3 linked regions of the Homo sapiens genome follow. Each later gene encodes a partner of the first gene's protein in a complex. Each region holds a gene or a part of one and is shown in the gene's direction. Other genes may lie near its edges. The genes, in order: POLE, POLE3 and POLE4.

The links.
Region 2: POLE (region 1) and POLE3 share a complex: the UniProt entries of both Homo sapiens proteins name them as parts of the DNA polymerase epsilon complex.
Region 3: POLE (region 1) and POLE4 share a complex: the UniProt entries of both Homo sapiens proteins name them as parts of the DNA polymerase epsilon complex.

What each region holds. Positions count from the first base shown.
Region 1 is NC_000012.12:132,677,343-132,684,450, reverse strand, and holds part of POLE (DNA polymerase epsilon catalytic subunit A), read left to right. Parts: intron 1-3,171; coding exon 3,172-3,313; intron 3,314-3,763; coding exon 3,764-3,844; intron 3,845-4,228; coding exon 4,229-4,273; intron 4,274-4,404; coding exon 4,405-4,497; intron 4,498-4,799; coding exon 4,800-4,954; intron 4,955-6,731; coding exon 6,732-6,873; intron 6,874-7,007; coding exon 7,008-7,088; intron 7,089-7,108. UniProt on the Homo sapiens protein: Catalytic component of the DNA polymerase epsilon complex. Participates in chromosomal DNA replication.
Region 2 is NC_000009.12:113,407,676-113,415,181, reverse strand, and holds the start of POLE3 (DNA polymerase epsilon subunit 3), read left to right. Parts: upstream 1-4,506; 5' UTR 4,507-4,565; intron 4,566-4,773; 5' UTR 4,774-4,888; coding exon 4,889-4,954; intron 4,955-5,041; coding exon 5,042-5,127; intron 5,128-5,453; coding exon 5,454-5,572; intron 5,573-6,198; coding exon 6,199-6,371; 3' UTR 6,372-7,506. Other genes in the region: uncharacterized protein C9orf43, read right to left, coding at 1,288-1,423, 1,538-1,737, 4,259-4,263. UniProt on the Homo sapiens protein: Accessory component of the DNA polymerase epsilon complex. Participates in DNA repair and in chromosomal DNA replication.
Region 3 is NC_000002.12:74,961,633-74,968,740, forward strand, and holds part of POLE4 (DNA polymerase epsilon subunit 4), read left to right. Parts: intron 1-7,108. UniProt on the Homo sapiens protein: Accessory component of the DNA polymerase epsilon complex. Participates in DNA repair and in chromosomal DNA replication.

The sequences.
Region 1 (7,108 bases):
GTGTGATATAGTAACCAGTCAATGGTAGCTCTGTGAATGAGAGCCTGTGTGGAGTACTGGGACGGTGTGATACAGTAACCAGTCAATGGTAGCTCTCTGTGAATGAGAGCCTGTGTGGAGTACTGGGACGGTGTGATATAGTAACCAGTCAATGGTAGCTCTGTGAATGAGAGCCTGTGTGGAGTACTGGGACGGTGTGATACAGTAACCAGTCAATGGTAGCTCTCTGTGAATGAGAGCCTGTGTGGAGTACTGGGACGGTGTGATACAGTAACCAGTCAATGGTAGCTCTCTGTGAATGAGAGCCTGTGTGGAGTACTGGGACGGTGTGATACAGTAACCAGTCAGTGGTAGCTCTCTGTGAATGAGAGCCTGTGTGGAGTACTGGGACGGTGTGATACAGTAACCAGTCAATGGTAGCTCTCTGTGAATGAGAGCCTGTGTGGAGTACTGGGACGGTGTGATATAGTAACCAGTCAATGGTAGCTCTCTGTGAATGAGAGCCTGTGTGGAGTACTGGGACGGTGTGATATAGTAACCAGTCGATGGTAGCTCCCTGTGTGACACTTATCCCCATTTTTCAGATTTCTTACTGTCCCTGGATTAAAAGTGAGATACACAGCTCAGAGAAAGCAGTTTTGGGAGGAAATATGGTCCCAGTGAGCAGTTTTCTAGTCTACTTAATCCAACTTACTTGAGGCAAGGATATTTGGAGGACTGGCATAGAGGGCCGTGCGCCCCTGTTAAGAGGTGATGCCTCGTAAATAGCACTTCATTCACTCTTGATTTTGATAAAGATCTGGGACTCAGAACTGAGGCTGTTCTCTAGCAAGATTTGGAATATAGTTTTTCTGTGTTTTTGATTACGGGTGCATTCAACTATTTAAAAGATTAAACCTTTATTATACAGTATGGTGGTGTATCAGTTTCCTATTGCTGCAGTAACACATGATCACTTAGTGACTATATAAATTTATTCTCTTACGGTTTTAGAAGTCAGAAGTCGTAATATGAAAGTGTCTGGTTGGTTATATTTATTGTGATGGTTCCCGGGGGAGAATCTGTTTCCTTGCTGCTTCTTCATCTTCAGAACCAAGGGTTGCATCTCCTCTCCCCCCTACCCTCTCTCTCCCATCCCTTTCTCCTTCCTGACTCTAGCTCTCCTGCCTCACTCTACAAGGATTCTTGTGATTACACTGCGCCCACCCAGCTAAGCAGAATCTCAAGGCCCTTAATTTAGTCAGATCTGCAAAGACCCTTTTGTCTTGTAAGATAACATTCACAGGTTTGGGGGATTAGGATGTGGGTCTTTCATGGGGGGTGTCATCCTGCCTGCCTACCACAAGTGGTTATAATCTTTCATGAGAAGTAAGGATCCTAGTCTTGGAATATGGTCATTCTGCTCTTGAGTTGAAGGTGATCCAAGGAATACCTTCAGACAAAGGAAGGGTCTTCCTTTCTTTTTTTATCTTGTTCTTTTTTTATTTTATTTTTTTTTTAGACGGAGTCTCGCTCTGTCGCCCAGGCTGGAGTGCAGTGGCATGATCCCAGCTCACTGCAAGCTCTGCCTCCTGGATTCACGCCATTCTCCTGCCTCAGCCTCCCGAGTAGCTGGGACTACAGGCGCCCGCCACCACGCCCGGCTAATTTTTCGTATTTTTAGTAGAGACGGGGTTTCACCATGTTAGCCAGGATGGTCTCAAACTCCTGGCCTCAAGTCATCCACCCTCCTTGGCCTCCCAAAGTGCTGGGATTACAGTTGTGAGCCACTGCGCCTGGCCCTCAACCTTTTTTTGAGGTAATTGTAGATTGATTCTCATGCATTTGTCAGAAATGATACAGAGATTCCCGTATCACTTCACCATAACATCTTGTGTAAGTAGAGTACAATTGTCACAACTAAGAAATTGACATTGAGACGACCCATCTAATTTATTTTATCTTATTTTATTTTATTTATTTTTTTGAGACGAAGTTTCACTCTTGTCACCCAGGCTGGAGTGCAGTGGCGCAATCTTGGCTCACTGCAACCTCCACCTCTAGGGTTCAAGTGATTCTCCTGCCTCAGCCTCCTGAGTAGCTGGGATTATAGGCCCACCCCACCACACCCAGCTAATTTATTTATTTATTTATTTATTTTTATTTATTTTTTTTTTTTTGCCGGAGTCTCGCTCTGCTGCCCAGGCTGGAGTGTGGTGGCGCGTTCTCGGCTCACTGCAAGCTCCACCTCCTGGGTTCACGCCATTCTCCTGCCTCAGCCTCCTGAGTAGCTGGGACTATAGGCACCCACCACCACGCCTGGCTAAGTTTTTGTATTTTTAGTAAAGACGGGGTTTCACTGTATTAGCAGGATGGTCTAGATCTCCTCACCTCGTGATCCGCCCGCCTCGGCCTCCCACGGTGCTGGGATTTAATTTTTTGTATTTTTAGTAGAGACAGGGTTTCACCATGCTGGCCAGGCTGGTCTCAAACTCCTGACCTCAGGTGATCCACCCGCCTTGGCCTCCCAAAGTTTTGGGATTACAGGCGTGAGCCACTGTGCCTGGCCTGACAATCCGTCTGTTTTATTCAAATCATGTCAGTGTTACATGCACTCTCATGAGCCACCGCGTCTGGCTAGTTTTATGCATTTTTAGTGTCCCAAGAGGCAACAGTGTCTAGCCATCATGACTCTTTTTGTTAGTATTCTGGTTATAAAGTTGAACAGGTTTTGAAGGGCCTGCCCTAATTGTGTTTTTCCAATGAGTCCTTTTATCTTAATGAGCCTTTTTCCAAGCTCGGGGTTTTTCAGGAATATATATACCCTGTCATATCCGAAACACTTAACACTAGGTGGGATGAGGGTTGCAGAAGTAGGTGGCAGTCGGATCACAAGGTCAGGAGATCGAGACCATCCTGGCTAACACGGTGAAACCCCGTCTCTACTAAAAATACAAAAAATTAGCCAGGCGTGGTGGCTGTCGCCTGTGGTCCCAGCTACTCGGGAGGCTGAGGCAGGAGAATGGCGTGAACCCGGGAGGCGGAGCTTGCAGTGAGCCGAGATCACACCACTGCACTCCAGCCTAGGCGACAGAGCAAGACTCCGTCTCAAAAAAAAAGAAAAAAAAGAAAAAAAGAAGCAGCAGCAGGTGGCATTACAAATTAAGCACGGGGTTCCCTTCTTTCACTCAGGGATGATGGCGCCACTTCCTCAGTTTCGGCACTCAAGCGCCTGGAACGGAGTCAGTGGACGGATAAGATGGATTTGCGGTTTGGTTTTGAGCGGCTGAAGGAGCCTGGTGAGAAGACAGGCTGGCTCATTAACATGCATCCTGTAAGCACTAGGTCCTTCTCCCACCCAGGAATATGGCTGCAACCCTTCTGGTCATAGCGTGGTCCTTATCTAAAGAGTGGGGGACACATGAGGGAACTTTGAGTGAATCAGGTGGGAGATGTGAAGGTTCCCAGCTCTCCTTTCCTCTTTAACGTCATTGAGGGCCACAGAGAGGCCACTGTGAGAAGCCGGAGGTGATGGGCATCTCTTTTAGCCATCAGAATAAAGCTTTCAAGGATTATGAGGGAGAAATTGAGAGAGATCCCCATTTGGAGGCCGTTACAGTGTGGTTCTTGTGAATAAGGCTGGTAGTGTTAATGTAGGGGTGGAGTAAAGACCTAGATGAGAGGGTTTGTTTCTAAAGTGCTGAGTTTCCCGAAAGGTAGGAGGAAAGTTTCTCTAACTGTGTAGAGGATGGTCTTGTGTCTGTGTTGACTGATTCTCTTGTAGACCGAGATTTTAGATGAAGATAAGCGCTTAGGCAGTGCAGTGGATTACTACTTTATTCAAGATGACGGAAGCAGATTTAAGGTAAGCCCCTGACTGCGACAAGCTAAAACCCACTTTTATGGGTGTTCATGTAGCTCTGTGACTGTCAGGGAGGGCATGGGAGGCTTCCAGTGCACAGCAGCCCATAGCCCAGCAGAACTCGGGCCCCTGGAGGCCCCATCAGTCATCACGTAAGATGTCCTGAGAGAGGTCAGTTCAGGAAGACTCTGAATGGTGAGAAGTAGCGTGTCTTTCAGATTCTTGCCCCTGTGAAAAGTGCGCATTCTGACTTCCTGTATGCTACCAAGGTCAAGGCTACCCTGGCCCTAGGCTGTTCATGGGATATAGGAGCAAGCAATGTGTTTTCACTTTTCTCTCGCTTTCTTCTTTCTCATCACCCCTGGATGGGTTGGTGACTCTTAACAGGTGGCTTTGCCCTATAAACCGTATTTCTACATTGCGACCAGAAAGGTGAGTGTGTTTCATAGACTCAGGTCAGACGACCTGTGTGTCATTCTGTGGTGGGCTTTGCAACTGGGAAATAGGCAAGGAAGGAAATGTATTTTACCAATGGAAAGCCTTTTCATTCTGATCCTGATTAGGGTTGTGAGCGAGAAGTTTCATCTTTTCTCTCCAAGAAGTTTCAGGGCAAAATTGCAAAAGTGGAGACTGTCCCCAAAGAGGATCTGGACTTGGTGAGTATCACCCAGACTTTCCAGGGGTAAATGAGGCCAGAGTCTACATTGTTCCTGGCAGGTGGGATCGGAAGAGGTAGAAATTCAGGTCATCTGTTGGGTGATGGGGCGGTGTGGTGACCGTCTATAAAATTCCTTCCAAAGAGCTCTAGTGGTGTTAGTTGGTGCCACGTGCAGAGTTGGACAAGGTGCCTTGAAGTCGCCAACTCTTTGACTTGTGTGTTTACCTTTGAGTGTTTACCCTCTCACCCATAAAGTCCTATTTCTCTTGAACCAATGAGCGTGATCTCTTCGCATTATAGCCAAATCACTTGGTGGGTTTGAAGCGAAATTACATCAGGCTGTCCTTCCACACTGTGGAGGATCTTGTCAAAGTGAGGAAGGAGATCTCCCCTGCCGTGAAGAAGAACAGGGAGCAGGATCACGCCAGCGACGCGTACACAGCTCTGCTTTCCAGGTAAACTTTGGTCTTGTGAGCAAAGCATCAGCGGTTCAGAACGACAAGATGGATAGGAGACAGGAACACGTAGCAACAAAGTTACCTTAATGGCTGGCTCTGTTTGATACGGAAAACTTGAGCAATTAGGTAGAGATTTCTGTATGTTCTGTGTTAAATAAACAGTGGCTTCCCAGGTTATATTTTATGTGTTAGCTCTCTTTTCCAATGGAGGGGTGGGTTTATGGCTCTAAAATTGAGTGGTTGTAATAGTAAAGTCACCTTAGAGGGGAAAAGATCCCTCATCCTACTGCCCTAACACAATCCATCTATGAATTTCATTAAGTGCTGAGATTTACACAGCACATCTCCAGAGAACCTTGGGTATCGTCCACAGAAATTTAAGCCTAGAACACTAAACACTGTTCTTCAAGTATTTGAGCATCAACAATAATAGGATGCAAAGTAACCAGTTAGGAAGAGAAAATCTTGAGTAATGAAGTTTAGATGACTTCGGAAGAACCTACCTTACCCTCTGACAAAAGAGGATCAGTTTGGGATGCTGAACATTTCTACAGTCCCTACCCGGAGTCCGCCTTCCCTGGCAATGCCACAAGTTGCTTTTTGAAATATTGGAAGGTGTGATCAGAGACTGAGTCCTCAGAGACTTGAGCCATATCTGAGACTCGTCTGTCTTTTTCCCCCTGAATAGCCCGTTCAGTATTTGAGCTTATAGGCCAATAGTGGCCGCAATGGTGGGCCACTTCTTTAGACATGGCAGAGACCCATGCACAGGCTGTGTGAAGCCCAGGCCTGCTCTTCAGCCTGCATGAGGCAGCCTCCTGAGTATCAGGACCATGGTGGGATGGTCATGCCTGGCTCTCCTGACTGGCAGCACTTAATGTTTTCTTTCTTTTTTCTTCTATTTACTTATTTGTTTTGAGACAGGGTCTTGCTCTGTTGCCCAGGCTGGAGTGCAGTGGTGCAATCATAGCTCACTGTGGCCTCGAACTCCTGGGCTCAAGCGATCCTTTCACCTCAGCCTCCTGAGTAACTGGGATCACAGGTGTGTACCCCATGCCTGGCTAATTATTATTATTATTATTATTACTTTTGTAGAGATGAGTCTCCCTATGTTGCCCAGGCCTGTCTTGAACTCCTGGGCCGAAGCGATCCTCCTGCCTCCCAGAGTGCTGGGATTAGAGGCATAAGCCACCATGCTTGGCCCTCTTTTTTTTTTTCTAGTTGGGGTGTAACTCACATCATATAAAATGAATACATCTTACACTGAATTTTCTCCTGTCTGTAGAGTTATCATCCAAGCTATTCTTTATTTTTTTGAGATGGAGTCTCGCTCTGTTGCCCAGGCTGGAGTGCAGTGGCGCAATCTGGGTTCACTGCAACCTCCGCCTCCTGGGTTCAAGTGATTCTCCTGCCTCAGCCTCCCAGGTATCTGGGGTTACAGACATGCGCCACCACGCCTGGCTAATTTTTGTATTTTTAGTAGAGATGAGGTTTCGTCGTGTTGGCCAGGCTCGTCTCGAACTCCTGACCTCGGGTGATCCGCCTTCCTTGGCCTCCCAAAGTGCTGGGATTACAGGCGTGAGCTGCCACGCCTGGCCCAGTCCAAGCCATTCTTAAAGGAAGGACTGCCTTGGTCGTTGAAACCACATCAATTTACCTTTTGTGTTTCCTCGGTTTGAACTCTGGTCTCACCTCTTCCTACTGAGTTGGAACTCTGGTCTCACCTCCTCCAGACCCTGGCAGCTGAGTTAGTTGCTCTCTTGTTAATTCCTAGTGTTCTGCAGAGGGGCGGTGTCATTACTGATGAAGAGGAAACCTCTAAGAAGATAGCTGACCAGTTGGACAACATTGTGGACATGCGCGAGTACGATGTTCCCTACCACATCCGCCTCTCCATTGACCTGAAGATCCACGTGGTGAGTGGGGCAGGGTTGGGTCGCTGCTCACATGAATTTCCTAACAGCCAGGAGATGATCATTATGGGTGAATCCACAGAAGAATAGACTTTCCTGGATGTAGAACTCTAGTTAGCACACTGTGTGTTTTGCAGGCTCATTGGTACAATGTCAGATACCGAGGAAATGCTTTTCCGGTAGAAATCACCCGCCGAGATGACCTTGTTGAACGACCTGTAAGTTTTGCTTGTGTTAC
Region 2 (7,506 bases), on another chromosome or scaffold:
ACAAAGTAAGACCCTATCCCCCACCAAAAAAAAAGGAAATAGAAAGACAGGGTTGGGCATGGTGGCTCACACCTGTAATTCTAGCACTTTGGGAGGCTGAGGCGGGTGGATCACTTGAGGTCACGAGTTTGAGACCAGCCTGGCCAACATGGTGAAACTCTGTCTCTACTAAAAATATAAAAATCAGCCACGCATGGTGGTGCACGCCTGTAATTCCAGATACTCGGGAGGCTGAGGCATGAGAATTGCTTGAACCTGGGAGACAGAGGTCGTGCCATTGCACTCCAACCTGGGTGACAGAGTGAGACTCTGTCTCAAAAAAGAAAAAAGAAAGATGGCATATATGGATGGTTTTCTGTCCGTACATACAGATGCTGATAAGATGGGCTGAATTGTGTCCTCCCAAAATTCATCGTTAAAGTCCCAACTAGTACTTCAGAATTTGACTGTATTTGGAGATATGGTTTTTTAAAAAGTTATTAAGGTAAAAATGAAGTCACATGAGGGGGCCCTAACCCAGTAAGACTGGTGTCCTTGTAAGAAGAAATTAAGACACAGACGCACAGAGGGAAGACCATGTTAACACATAGGGAGAGGGGCTCAGTATGGTGTCTCATGCCTGTAATCCCAACAATTTGGGAGGCCAAGGCAGGAGGATCACTTGAGGCCAGGAGTTCAAGACCGGCCCAGGCAACAAAGCAAGACCTCGTCTCTAATAAAAGTAAAAAAAAAAAAAAAAATTAACCAGGCGTGGTGGTGCACACTTGTAGTCCTAGCTACTTGGGAGGCTGAGGTGGGAGGATCGCTTGAGCCCAGAAAGTTGAGGCTGCAGTGAGCTATGATCGCACCATTGCACTCTAGTCCAGCCTGGGTGACAGGGTGAGACCCTGTCTCAAAAAAAATAAATAAAAAGGACACAGGGTATAAAAAATTACCATCTACAAACCAAGAGTGGTCTCAAAAGCAAACAGTCTTGGCAACACCTTGATATTGGACTTCTAGCCTCAAGAATTACAAGAAAATAAATTTTGTTGTTTAAGGCACCCAGTCTATGGTATTTTGTTATAACAGCCCTACCGAACCAATATACCTCCCAAATTAACCAATTCCTAGGGCACAAGCAGGAAGGGTTTCTTTCTGTTTCCCACTGCCTATTCACCACTTCTTTAACCCAATTGGTATTTTCTTTTTAATCTAGCTTTCTCAAAGTATACTAATGGATAAGGAAAATCATAATCCAGAATTTTGAGACAATAGGCTGTAAAGGAAGATTCCATGATAATTTACCTGCCATGAAATTTGGAGTAAAACTTTGAACTCTGAGACAATAAAGAATGGGCCTTAGTAAAGGTACATTCTGGTAAATGATGAGCTGCAAAGCCGGAATCTAAGATGTCTACCACGGTGAGCACTGGGAGTTTATCTAAGAAGGCAGACCAGAAGAAAACATGTTAACCTGCTGCCTGGAGAAAGGGAGCCACATACATAAATACGTTAAGGACCTCGTGAGGGAGAGGACAGAAGCTGGCTAATTCACCTTCAGCATCCAGGGGAGTTTTGCAGGATGAGCCGAGGATTCGAGGATGGCCCCTCTCAATGCGGCGGATAGTTGCCCAGCATTGTGGGTGCTGACAAACAGCCAAGCCACAGGTGGTTTCGTCCCACTGGCTCTCATCTGGCAAGTCCATAGCTAGAAATGGTTTAGGCCAAAGGCCAACCCTGCAGCATTCTAGTGCTCTGGAAAATCAACAGCTACATAATTAGGGAGTATTATACATTAGCCATACAGTCCAGATGTTAATTTGAACTCACAGTATAAAATATTTCTATTGAACCTATATAGGTAAATGATGGCCACAAAATAATTAAAGATTGGATAACAAGCAAGTATGAAAATAGCTCAGCATAAAGTAGAATGGCAAGAGTTTGAGAGCAGGACTTCAGGTCTCCTAATTGGCTATTTAATAGCTGAGTGACCTGGGACTTAACCAGTCTGAGCCTGTTGCCTCCACTGTAAAATGAGGATAAGCTTATTTCACAGGGTCATTATAAAAATTAGTTAATGGATATTAAAAGCCTGGCATATTGTTCCAAATAAATATTTGCATCCTTTCCTTTTCCCCTTCGTTAGTCATCAGGGAGAAGATGCCACCATCTCCAAAAAGCATTATCAAATTATGACCAAAGTAGTCACAGAAGTGTCTTAGAAGGCCCAAACTTCTGGAAGACATGTTTCATTTTTCAATGTGCTTCAGTTCCCATGCAGGCAGATAAAATACCCACCAGCAATGAATGTGTTTGCTCAAATAGCAAATCACTAGACACTGCTAGTTGCATCAGAGGCCATTAGCTTTTCATTCATTGGCCATATGGCCTTTGACAAGGGTCTTCACACCTCTCTCTCAAGTAGGGGGAGGGGTCCTGACTTGGTGTCTCAGGTCTGTAACCACAGCACTTTGGTAGGCCAAGATGAGTTACCCCCTCTCCACAAAAAATAATAAATAACATAAGCAGAAGGCAGGGAATCCCTAAGTAGGACTGCAGAAGCATTAAATGAGATAATGTACTTTTATTCATGGGAGGTGTTCAATAAATATTATCATCTTTTCCTTTCTAGAGGTGTTTTAGGCAATCACTAACTACCACCTTATTCCTAAGAACTTTTTAAGGACAGTGTCCATTTCTTTCTTTTATTCAACACATTTATTGATTACTAAATATGTGAGGGGACCTGCTTTGGACATGAACAGTAATAAACAAACTCCCTGTTCTAAACAGTTTCATAATTTAGATCAAAGATAAACTATCAGCCTGGGATTGCACCTGGCCTATTACTTGTTTTGTTTGGCTAGCACTTTGAATCAATTTTAAATTTGAATCAATTTTAAAATTGAAATAGCCCACAATGTCCTTTTAGGGACCAAAATACTTGACAACACTGAGCCCAATTCCAGTTGAAGAGCAACTGACTAGCGCTGAGCAGCCCTGATGGTTTCAGCCAGGTCTGTTCTATCCAAGCGGAGTTCCCCCACCAGACCTTATGGTCTCTAATTGAAACACTTTCAGTTGCCATTTATCATAGCATTTGCTCTTTTGTTTTAAAATATTTCTCTATAATCAGGCTTCTATCGAAAGCAGGAAAACTACAGGGCGACTTGGGACTGCATGCTTGACGGGAAAAAAAAGCAGCATTAATTCTCAGTGGGAGGCTGGGCGCCGTGGCTCATGCCTGTAATCTCAGCACTTTGCAAGGCCGAGGGAGAATCACTTGAGCCCTGGAGTTCGAGACCAGCCTGGGCAACATGGTGAAACCCTGTCTCTACGAAAAATACAAAAAATTAGCTGGGTGTGATGGAACGCACCTGTAGCCCCAGCTATTTGGGGCTGAGGTGGGAGGACCACCTGAGCCAGGGAGGTCGAGGCTACAGTGAGCCGAGACCGTGCCGCTGCACTCCAGCCTGGGGGACGGAGTGAGACCCTGTCAAGAAATTTTAAAAATTAAAAAATAAATAAAATCAGTGGGAGTGAGAATTTCTACGAACTTAATATAAAAATAACTTAAAAACAACTTAAAACACCATTGCGCCGGGCGCGGTGACTGGCGCCTGTAATCCCTGCACTTTGGGAGACCGAGGCGGGCGGATCACGAGGTCAGGAGATCGAGACCATCTTGGCTAACACGGTGAAACCCTGTCTCTACTAAAAATACAAAAAAATTAGCCGGGCGTGGTGGCGGGCGTCTGTAGTCCCAGCTACTAAGGAGGCTGAGGTAGGAGAATGGCGTGAACCCGGGAGGCGGAGCTTGCAGTGAGCCGAAATCGGCGCCACTGCACTCCAACCTGGGCGACAGAGTGAGACTGTCTCAAAAAAAAAAAAAAAGAAACGCCATTGCAAAACCTTGAGAATGGTTTTAACTGGAAAAAATGTATGATGAACAATTTAACTGAAAAATAAATACAATTTTAACACGGTTTGTTTTTGAAAGCGAATGTGACGTTGCATTCTTCATACAGTGAAAAGGCTGCTTCTCGCCCTTTCGTTACCTGCCCAGTCCGAATTGACTCCTGAGACCTAATCAGGCGCATCTCTATATGGCCAGCATTATCCCTGGGCTGCCTAAATAGTTCGCGTTAAACACAAACAACAACAATAAAATCTAAATAACACTCAGTCTTAGTACCATTATTACAAAAGCGTGAGGGGCGAAAAGATTAAAAATGAACATCAACTTCGGTAGAGATGGAAAAAGACTGCCCACTCCATTCCAGGAAAGAAAAAAGAAAGTGGGAGAATCTGATCACGACGGGCTGAGGTCCTGTGAGAGCAAAGCAGATTCCAAACCGCTTAGGGTTGCTAAATCAAGTGGTAAAACGTGGCCCCTTGCGGCGCGGTGAGATTAACGGACCCGGCGGGCCCAGAGCCTGCCTCGGGTCCTAAAGGGATCCGCCCCGCCGAGTCAGCCACGCCTTCGTCTCCCACGCGCTGCGCCCGGCCGCGCCGTCACCCAGCAGCGGCGCAGGGCACCATGGGAAACGGACGGAAGCTCCATTGAGCCAAATAAGTTGGTGAGAAGGTTCCCGACGCGGCGATGGCGAGAAGCAGAGAAATGGACCTGGGGAGGGGCGTGCGGGGTGCGGTAGGGTTGGATGGAAGCCTTGGCGGGCCAAAACCACTGCGGCTTCAAAATCCGGATGCGCCGGTATTTGAGGCGGAGGCGGGGCTGTGGGGGGAGGAGGGAGGCTATGGCGCTCAGAGCACTGTGGGACACTGTAGGCCACGTGGGGCGGAACGGAAACCTCGCAGGGTCAGACCGTAGCGACGCGGGAAGTCCGGACGCAGTAGCTCCCTGAAGCGGAGGCGAAGGGGAGTTTAAGCCCCAGCGGCGGCAATGGCGGAGAGGCCCGAGGACCTAAACCTGCCCAATGCCGTGATCACCAGGATCATCAAGGAGGCGGTGAGCAGCTCGGGGGGGGCGGACGAACGGGCAGGAGGGAAGCAGGTGCTGGAACGGCAGCTTTGCTCACCCCCGGTCTCCTCGCAGCTCCCGGACGGTGTCAACATCTCCAAGGAGGCCCGGAGCGCCATCTCCCGCGCCGCCAGCGTCTTCGTGCTGTACGCCACATCCTGGTGAGCGGGACAGAGGCATAAGGGAGGCGCGGGGATACCTGGCTGGGAGTTGCTGGCTGGGAGCCTACAAACCCCAACGATTGTGTTCTCCCTCGGTGGGGACATGTTCACAGTCCTCTGCCAGTTTTTACAAGTTCTGAAGCAAAATAACACAACAAAATCACTTTGCTTTAGCTTTTTTGTGCAGAGAAGGGAAGGACTTATCCCTGTCACACCAAAATCCATACATGTAAGAGGCAGGCTTTCCCGTTCCACCTCTGGGTGCTCCTTTTCCCACTCACGCCTTACAAACAAGAGGGAGTCTGACAGCCTTTCTCTTCTCTCAGTGCTAACAACTTTGCAATGAAAGGAAAGCGGAAGACGCTGAATGCCAGTGATGTGCTCTCAGCCATGGAAGAGATGGAGTTCCAGCGGTTCGTTACCCCATTGAAAGAAGCTCTGGAAGGTAACGAGCCTCTTGTCTTCTAAACCACATAGAAGATGGTCATCCTGTGTGACCTGTTCACCAGGCCCTGAGCCTTCTCAGCGCGGGTCCCTTTAAGTCCAGTAAGCCAGCACTTGATGTGACTCGACCCAGTTCGGTGGGCACCACCTCAGATCTGTTTTGTAATGCTGAGCAAGTTATTTTTCCTTCTCTGCCTCCGTTTTTGTTTTTGTCTTGCTTTTCTTGTTTTTGTTTTTTTTTTTTTTTTTTTGAGACGGAGTCTTGCTCTGTCACCCAAGCTGGAGTGCAGTGATGGGATCTCAGCTCACCGCAGTCTCCTCCTCCTGGGTTCAAGCAATTCTCCTGCCTCAGCCTCCCGAGTAGCTGGGACTACAGGCGCACGCCACCACGTGCGGCTCATTTTTTATTTTTGTAGAGACGGGGTTTCACCATATTGGCCAGGCTGGTCTTGAACTCCTGACCTCAGGTGATCCGCCCGTCTCAGCCTCCCAAAGTGCTGGGATTACAGGCGTGAGCCACCGCGCCCATCTGCCTCCGTTTTTCCAATTGTACAATGTAATTAGCTCCTGCAGTCCGTCTGGCTCACTTTCAGCTCTGTCTCCTAACCCCTTGTTCCGTCCTTACAGCATATAGGCGGGAGCAGAAAGGCAAGAAGGAGGCCTCAGAGCAAAAGAAGAAGGACAAAGACAAAAAAACAGACTCGGAAGAGCAAGACAAGAGCAGGGATGAGGACAATGATGAAGACGAAGAAAGGCTGGAAGAAGAAGAACAGAATGAAGAGGAAGAAGTAGACAACTGAAAAGGGCGGGAGACTGTGGCACCTTGGAAGGTACCACTTGAAATGAGACGTGCTACGTGTTTCTGTGAAGCTTTTCCATGCTGGGCAGAGTAGTCTCAGGCAAAAGTGCCTGAAAAGATCAGAATAAAAACTGACTAGAAATACCGTCAAAACCAGCACTTACCAAACTCAGAGCATCTGAGTAGCAGAATCCTGTTTTGCTTCATCAATCTGAAGGTTATGGCCTTTTGACAAGAGGGATTCTGAACGACTAAATTAGTCAGTTTGCTCGCTTTTGTTTACTTAAATGTATGGTTAGATGGTTTTTGATCTGCAGTCTTCCCTAGTCCCCCAAATAAGTAATAATAACTTCCATGCTGCCTGCTGTGTTCCAGATCACAGAGGCAGCCAAGGCTCAGGAAAAACTGGGGCTTTGCTTATGGTCAGCCTATGTTTGATTGCACAGTCTTTGACAATAGTAGCTTACTAAGACTGCTCAGAATGAGTAAGCTTTAGGAAACTACTAAAATGCTGTGGGAGAATAACAAAATCCGTTCTCTCTCTTCACTTGACAGAAGCATTAACTGAATTTTGTTTTTCATAGACCCACTTGGCCCAAAACCTTTCTATATTGCCTGTAGATGATCGGCCTGCTGGTGTGGTAGTAATCTGATCACAGATATTCTTAAATCAGCAGTGTGGAATGGTATTAGTCAAACATGGTGCCAGTGTCTTTTACAAAAACAGATGGCATAGTGTCAGATGTACCTTACTCTCTGCTACTGTACAGCTTTAGGATTTGTCATCACCTCCCGGAAGGTGTAAAACCCCAGGCTTCCTCTTCTTGTAGTCCATCTCCCAGACTTGTGACTATGGCTTTTCATTCTTCAATTCATGACGAGTGCCAAACTTGATTTTCTCTAGGCACAGCTTTCTCCCTCTGTGCCTCCTGCTTCCTTTCTCTCTCCTGCCTCTCCTCTGCTCCCCATCCCACTTTCTCATCTGCCTCCTTTTCTCACTTCTGTCAGTCTGTAAGCTTTGATAACCTGCTTAATACTCCAAAGTGTGAGTTCCTCTGATCTCTTGATTCCTTAGTTCTAATCTCACGTTTTGTTTTTAAGAGATGGAGTCTCTCACTCTGTGGCCCAGGCTGGAG
Region 3 (7,108 bases), on another chromosome or scaffold:
GGGTGGTCTTATGTAGTTTTCCACTCTAGCCTCTATCACAGCATAGTGCTTAGCTTGGATTTTTAATAAATGGCCATTTATTGAATGATTGGTGTGTTTATTTTCATCCTCTGCCTTCATCCTCATTTATCTCTGTAATTGAATCCCTTTGCTCTGTCCTACATTGGTAGATCTGAATGTTAGCCATCATAGCCCCTGTGGATTCAGTCTGCATTATATTATTTTTTACTGGGTAAAATAAATGTTCTTATGTCCTTAGGTGTGTATGGTCTAAGTAAATACATTTTTTTCGTTTTTATAATACATATCCATACTTGAAAATCAAATCGTTACCTAATGGCTTATAATGAAGTACAGCTGCCGTCCACCCACTGTTTTGTTTGTGTTTTGAGCTTTTCTGGTGGTTACGTTTATTTCTAACTAATATGCTTACCCATTGGTTTGTCAGCTGTAGACGGTATGTATTGACTTCCTGCTGTGATAAATGAAGATTTGGCTAACCTGTAGAACCCCATAAATCCCCTGCTGTCTTTCTGATTTTTGGTAGTTGTATCACTAGTTTTAGTTTCTTTACCTTTACAGTTTATATAACATACTAGGATGTCTTTGGTTGTTGTGTCCAATTTTTAATGTATTCCTTGACTCCCCAGTTTGTAAAGTATGACTATTAGTGCATGTATCCCTTTTCCCTTTCTAGTTCACATCTAGCTATCAATTTGTGTTATCTAGTAATTTGACATTGTCAAAGCTAATAACATTTGTATCTTATCACAATTAAATCTTCCATGCTTTATCTCTGGTTGATTGTAGAAGTTGAAAACTAGGACTGTAAACAGTCTTTCTCTACCTTCTCTCTGTCCCTTAATTCCTCATTCAGGTCCCCTCCCTGCAAACAACTGTTACTAGTTTTCTTCTGTAATCTGGATATTTTATGCAAATATGTTTGTATGTGTATATGTATATTCTTTTTCTAAGTCATATGAAATACAACGTATGTAAAGTGTGTGCTGTAAATGTAAAGTCAATAAATGATAAAATGAACACTCTCGTAACCACCATCTTGGCCAAGAGATAGGGTATTGTCAGCCCCCAGAGTCCCACGTATATTCATTCTTCATCATACCTATTCTCATCCCCTTTCCCGACATTACTGTTTCCTAACTTTTTTGGTAATTACTTCCTTTTCTTTATAGCTTACTATATAAGCATGCATCCCTGAACACTAAGGTTTAGTTTTGTTTTGTTGAACTCTCTGCAAATGGAACCAAACCGTATGCATTCGTTGGCCAACATCTGTCACACAACTGTTTTAAGTTAACACATTTATGAGATTCATCTGTGTGATTGCACATAACTCATTTGTTCGTGTTCCTTGCTATATGACAGTACCACAATTGAACTATTTTAATGTTGATATTTGGGAAACCTTATTTCTCCTATTATAAACAATTTGCTGTGAACAATCTTGTACATATTTCTCTAGGGTGGATGTATATGTGTGTATAAAATATATAATACTGCTGGGACCTAGGCTATATAGAGTATTCGTATCTCCATCTTTGGCAGGTACTGCTGAACTTCCTGTATTCCAATTCACGTTCCTACCAGCAGTGCATGATAATTCCCATTGCTTCTCATTCTTACCCACACTTGGTATTACCAGAGTTTTTTATTTTTGACAAGCTGTTATTGAATGTAAGTGATAGTTGCATGTGGTGTTAATTCGTATTGCCCTGATTGTGGGTGACATTGGGCGTCTTTTCATATACATGCCCATTTTTTTTTGAGGGGTGTCTTCTATTTTTCTGTTAGCTATTTTTGTCCTTTTTCTTATTGACTTATAAAAATGCTTGCTGTATTTTATTTCATTTTTATTTATTTATTTTTTTGACGTGGAGTCTTGCTTTGTCATCCAGGCTGGAATGCAGTGGCATGATCTCTGCTCAATGCAGCCCCCCCTCCCACGTTCAAGAGATTCTCACGTAACTGGGACTACAGGCGTGTACCACCACGCCTGGCTAATTTTGGCATTTTTTTGGTAGAGATGGGGTTTCACTGTGTTGGCCAGGCTGGTCTCGAACTCCTGACCTCAAGTGATCTGCCTGCCTCCGCCTTCCAAGGTGCTGGGATTACAGGTGTGAGCCACTGCGCCCAGCCGTGCTTGTTATATTTTAGATATGAATCTTTTTTAGTATATGAGACGTATCTTTTCCTGCCTTTTCACTCCTTAAAAGGTTGTCTTTTGATACGCATTAAAATATAAAGGTAATCAAATGTATCAATTTTTTTCCTTATAACTAATGCTATTTGTGTTCATTTTAGAAAATATTCCCTACTGTATTGTCATGAAGACATTCTGTATATGCTAAAATCTTTATAGTTTTGTCTTTCATAACAGTGGAGTTGAATTTTTGTGTATTGGGTTGGGGGTCCAGTCTCATTTGTGTCTTCATATTTAGATATCCGCTTGTCCATATCGTCATCTCACTGCTTTGCAGTGCTACCTTTCTTATCAATCAAGGCTGTTTCTGGCCTTTCTGTTCTCTTCCATTGATCTATTTGTATCTCTTTTCCATTGATGGGTATTCTCACATCAGTACTATACTGTCTCAGTTATGGTAGCTTTATCTGAGAGAGCAGATCTTCCCACCTTGTTTTTTTCTAAGTATCTTTGCTATTTTTGAATCTTTGCATTTTCATGTACATTTTAGAATCTGTCAAATTCCACAAAAAGAGATATTAATTGGGATTGTATTGAATTTATAAATTACTGTGGGGAAGAAACGATATCTTTACAATAGTGAACCTTTCATTTTATAAATATGGTCTACTTTAACATTTATTAATATTTAGTTTTTAATAAATTATTTTACCTGAAGAAATCTTGATGTATTTTGTTAAATGTTGTTCTGTAAGTACTTAATATTTTTGATGATATTGTTAATGGTATCTTTCTAAAGAAAATTTTATTTTCTAAATATTGCTGTTTTTAGAAATATAATTGATTTTATGTTAATTTTGCAACTAGCATCTTTCTTAGCTGTTATTCTTAGTTTTTTTACTTAAAAATTTTGTTTTGATGTAGTTCTTAATAATTTGAATGACATATCTGTTGATTTTTGAATTTCTTTAATTACATAGTAGTATATCATCTGCCAATAATAATAATTTTGTGAAGTTCTTTCCAATCCTTATCTTTATATATTTTTTTCTTGCCCTACTGAACTGGCTAGAATCTCTAGTACAGTGTTGCATGGAAGTGGTAAGAGCAGGCATTTTTGACTTCCAAGGGAAAGCTTTCAGTATTTACCTAGTAATTATGCTTACTGTAGATTTTATGTAGATTTTTTAACAGATTATGAATGTTGCATCCCTGTTTATAAAAGAGATTAGTCTTTTTTTTTCATACTGTGTGTGAGCTTCATACAATTCATTGGCAATTATACACTTTTTATCTATTTTTTTTTTTTTTTTGGTGGGGGATGGAGTCTCACTCTGTTGCCCAGGGTGGAGTACAGTGGTACGATCTCAGCTCATTGCAACCTCTGCCTCCTGGGTTCAAGTGATTCTCCTGCCTCAGCCTCTCGAGTAGCTGGGATTACAGGCTCGCACCACCACACCCCAATAATTTTTGTATTTTAGTAGAGATGGGGTTTTGCCATGTTGGTCAGGCTGGTCTTGAACTCCTGACCTCAGGTGTTCAAGGTCCACCCGCCTCAGCCTCCCAAAGTGTTGGGATTACAGGCGTGAGCCACCGCGCCTGGCCCACTTTTTATCTTATCTATTCTCTGGAAAACTTATTGAAAGATTGGAATTATTTTGTTTTTGAATATTTGATGGAATTCAGTGATGCTGTTAGAGGGGTTGCAATGCCAAATTTGGTTATTGTATAATTTAGATTTTCTGTGTTCTTACTGAATTTCTTCTGTCTGCTTATTTTACCTGTTTCAAAGAGTTATGTGTTAAAACTCTACTGCTATGATTATGGACTATTTCTACTTATATTTCTGGGTCTATTCTTTCATTATATATTATGAAACCATGTGATTAGATATATACAAATTTAATGTTGTTATATATTGTTGGTGATTGAGCCTTTTATATTTGTAAATTGGCTATTGTTATTTCTAACTGCTTTGAGCCCTAAAGTCTATTTTGTTTAATATTATTAAAGCTTATCAGCTTTCTTTAGTTAGTATTTATTTGCACGGTACGGATTTTTGTAAATCTTTTAATTTTTATCTTTCCATATATTTGTGAACAGAATTTAACTGGATTATTTTCCTAAATTCAGACAGTCTGTGTCTATAACTGGAGCACGTCATTTATTTATGTTTAATGTAATTGGTCATATCTATGAGTTTGAATTCTATTGTCTTATTTTGTCCTGCTTTTTATTTGCTTGTTTTATGTTTTGTTTTTTTTTTCTCTCAATTTTTGGCCTTCTTTTGGATTATTATTTGATTTTTTTCCCTCTATCAGCTTGGAAGTTATATGCTCTATTTCTATTCTTTTAGTGATTATCAGTTACTATGTAAGTCCTTAATTTATCAAAGCCTATTTAGTACCTTTCCCCTCATTCTCAACAAATTGAGATCTCAGGATCCATTAACTCAATTTTCAAATTCCTCGTCTCCTAATTTATGTGCTGTTATTGTCATGTATTTTTGTTTTGTCTTTGTCAATCTACATAAGGCATTTTTATTCCTGAATTATGCAGTCAATGATATATGGATTTAGTCACATACTACCTTTGCTTTTCTTTCCTTTCTGGATTATTATTATTTTTGAGACAGTTTCATTTCGTCACCCAGGCTGGAGTGCAGTGGTGCGATCTCAGCTCACTGCAACCTCTGCCTCCTGGGTTCAAGTGATTCTCATGTCTCAGCCTCCCAAGTAGCTGGAATTACAGGCATGCACCACCAAGCCTGGCTAGTTTTTTTTGTATTTTTAGTAGAGATGGGGTTTCACCATGTTGACCAGGCTAGTCTCAAACTCCTGACCTCAAGTCATCTGCCTGCCTTGGCCTCCCAAGTGCTGGGATTACAGGCGTGAGCTGCTGTGCTTGGCCTCCTTTCTGTATTTCCGATCCTCCATTTGTGATCATTTTCTTCTTCCTGAAATAAATCATTTAGAACTTCATTTAGTATGGTCTGGTAACTGACTCTCTCATTTTTTTCTTATGAAAATGCCTTGAATTTCATTGTTGGAGGATAATTTGTTGAATATAAATTCTAGGTGGAAAATTATTTTCTTTTAGCACATTGAAGCTATCATTTTACTGCTTTTTTTTTTGGCTTCTATGTTTTCTATAGAGAAATTACCTGTTTGTAATTCTTTTGAAGCTAGTTTATCCTTTTTGTTTTTTGTCTGCTTTTAAGATTTTCACTTTGATTTTCTGTGGTTTCACTCTGATGTACAGAGGTGTGGATTTCTTTTTATGTAGTTTGTTTGAGCTTCTTGAATCTATAGATTAATGTCTTTCATCTGTCCTGGAAAATTCTCAGCGAGTGTCTCTTCAGCTATTGGCTCTGCCTTGTTCTTTCCTGTGTCTCTCTCTGGGATTCCCATTAAATATATGTAAAAACTCAATCATAATTTTGCCTCTCTAGTATGCATTCTGTGTAATTTTTTCTGATCTTCCAGTTTATTCTCTCCATTTGTCTCATTTCCTTTAAACTATTTTTTTTGTTTTTTTTTTTTAGTTTCAGTTTTTGTATTTTTCAGTACTGTGAGTTCTGTTTGGTTCCTTTCCAAATCTGTTGTCTTTTTTTTTAGCTTAATAAAGTATCAAGCAATTTTTGTGAGTACTTTTTGTTGTTCTTATTTTCTGCAGGTATTTTGAAGTTTGTCTTTTAGTTCTGTAAACATAGTAAACACAGTTGTTTTATAGTGAATGTTCCATCCAATATATGACCTAATATTCAAAGCCTTTTGAGTTTTTTGTTTGCTAGTCTGTGCCGAATCTAACATCCATAGTCTCTTGAGACTGTCTTTTTGTCTGTTGTTTCTTTTGGTACTGTCACATGGCCTTTTATCCCCCTATATGCCTATCTTTGGATAATGGTTATTTTCTTTAAAAAGTATTTGTTAGATAAGTTGAGGCCATATGGTGATACTTTCTCCAAAGAAAATTTCCATTTGCTCCTGAAGCCACCTACAGCCATTATCAGTGCAGGACTTCTGAATCCAGATCTAAGACTTGAAGGTTTCTGGACTATCATACTGATATGAACTCAGGCTGCAGGCCTGTGAAGGGGCACTGATTAAATTCCAGTTCGTCCTTACTCTGAGGGGGCAGCCTTTTGGGCTCTAGCTTAAGAAAGATGGGTGTCAGACTTCCTTACTTGGGTAGACTCAGGGATTTGACTCTTGGTTCCTTCAGCCTACACAAATAACCGCCCAGTTTCTCAGCTTTTTCAGATTGGCAGATGTCATGAGAGCAGAAGTAACATTAGAGGCTGGGTTTGTTTTGTGTTCTTACTGTCTCTAGATTTCACATTTGCTTTTTCTTGATGTCTCTTCAATTCCTGAAGATTTCCTTTTCTTATATATTTTATTTAGCTTTCTCAGTTGATCTCAACAGGAACTTGCCATTATGAAAAGCACCTCTATTTTTTTTTAAATTAGAAGTGTTTTTGCTTTATTTTTCTTATGTTTTTATTTTCCCTATATTATCTAGGTCATTAAAAAAAGTTTTGGTATCCTTTCAACTGTGTAGCTTTCTTCAGATACCTGGTGATTTTCATTCTATTTAAGAATAAGGGAATAAGGCTGTTTGGTAACTGTGTGTGTGTGTATGGGATGAGGGGGTGGTTGTTGCCTGGCAGCTTTGCTTTAGGGTGAACAGGGGTGGGACCAGATGTTGTCCTGGGTGACCCCGAGGGTATGAATGCAGAATGCTTTGCTGTGGGAAGCTGGCAGTTTTAGAGGCTGTTCTAGTTTTCTCCATATAGTTCATTTGGTTCTTTAGAAGAGAGCCCTGTGATCTTTGTTTTTTTTTTTTTTCCAAGTTAGGTTTAAATGCCTGTCTTCTGGTTGTCCTGCCTGTGGGGAGGGTTGTGGGGAGATAGGGGCAACTGTTTGTCATACAGACCCTCTGGTCATT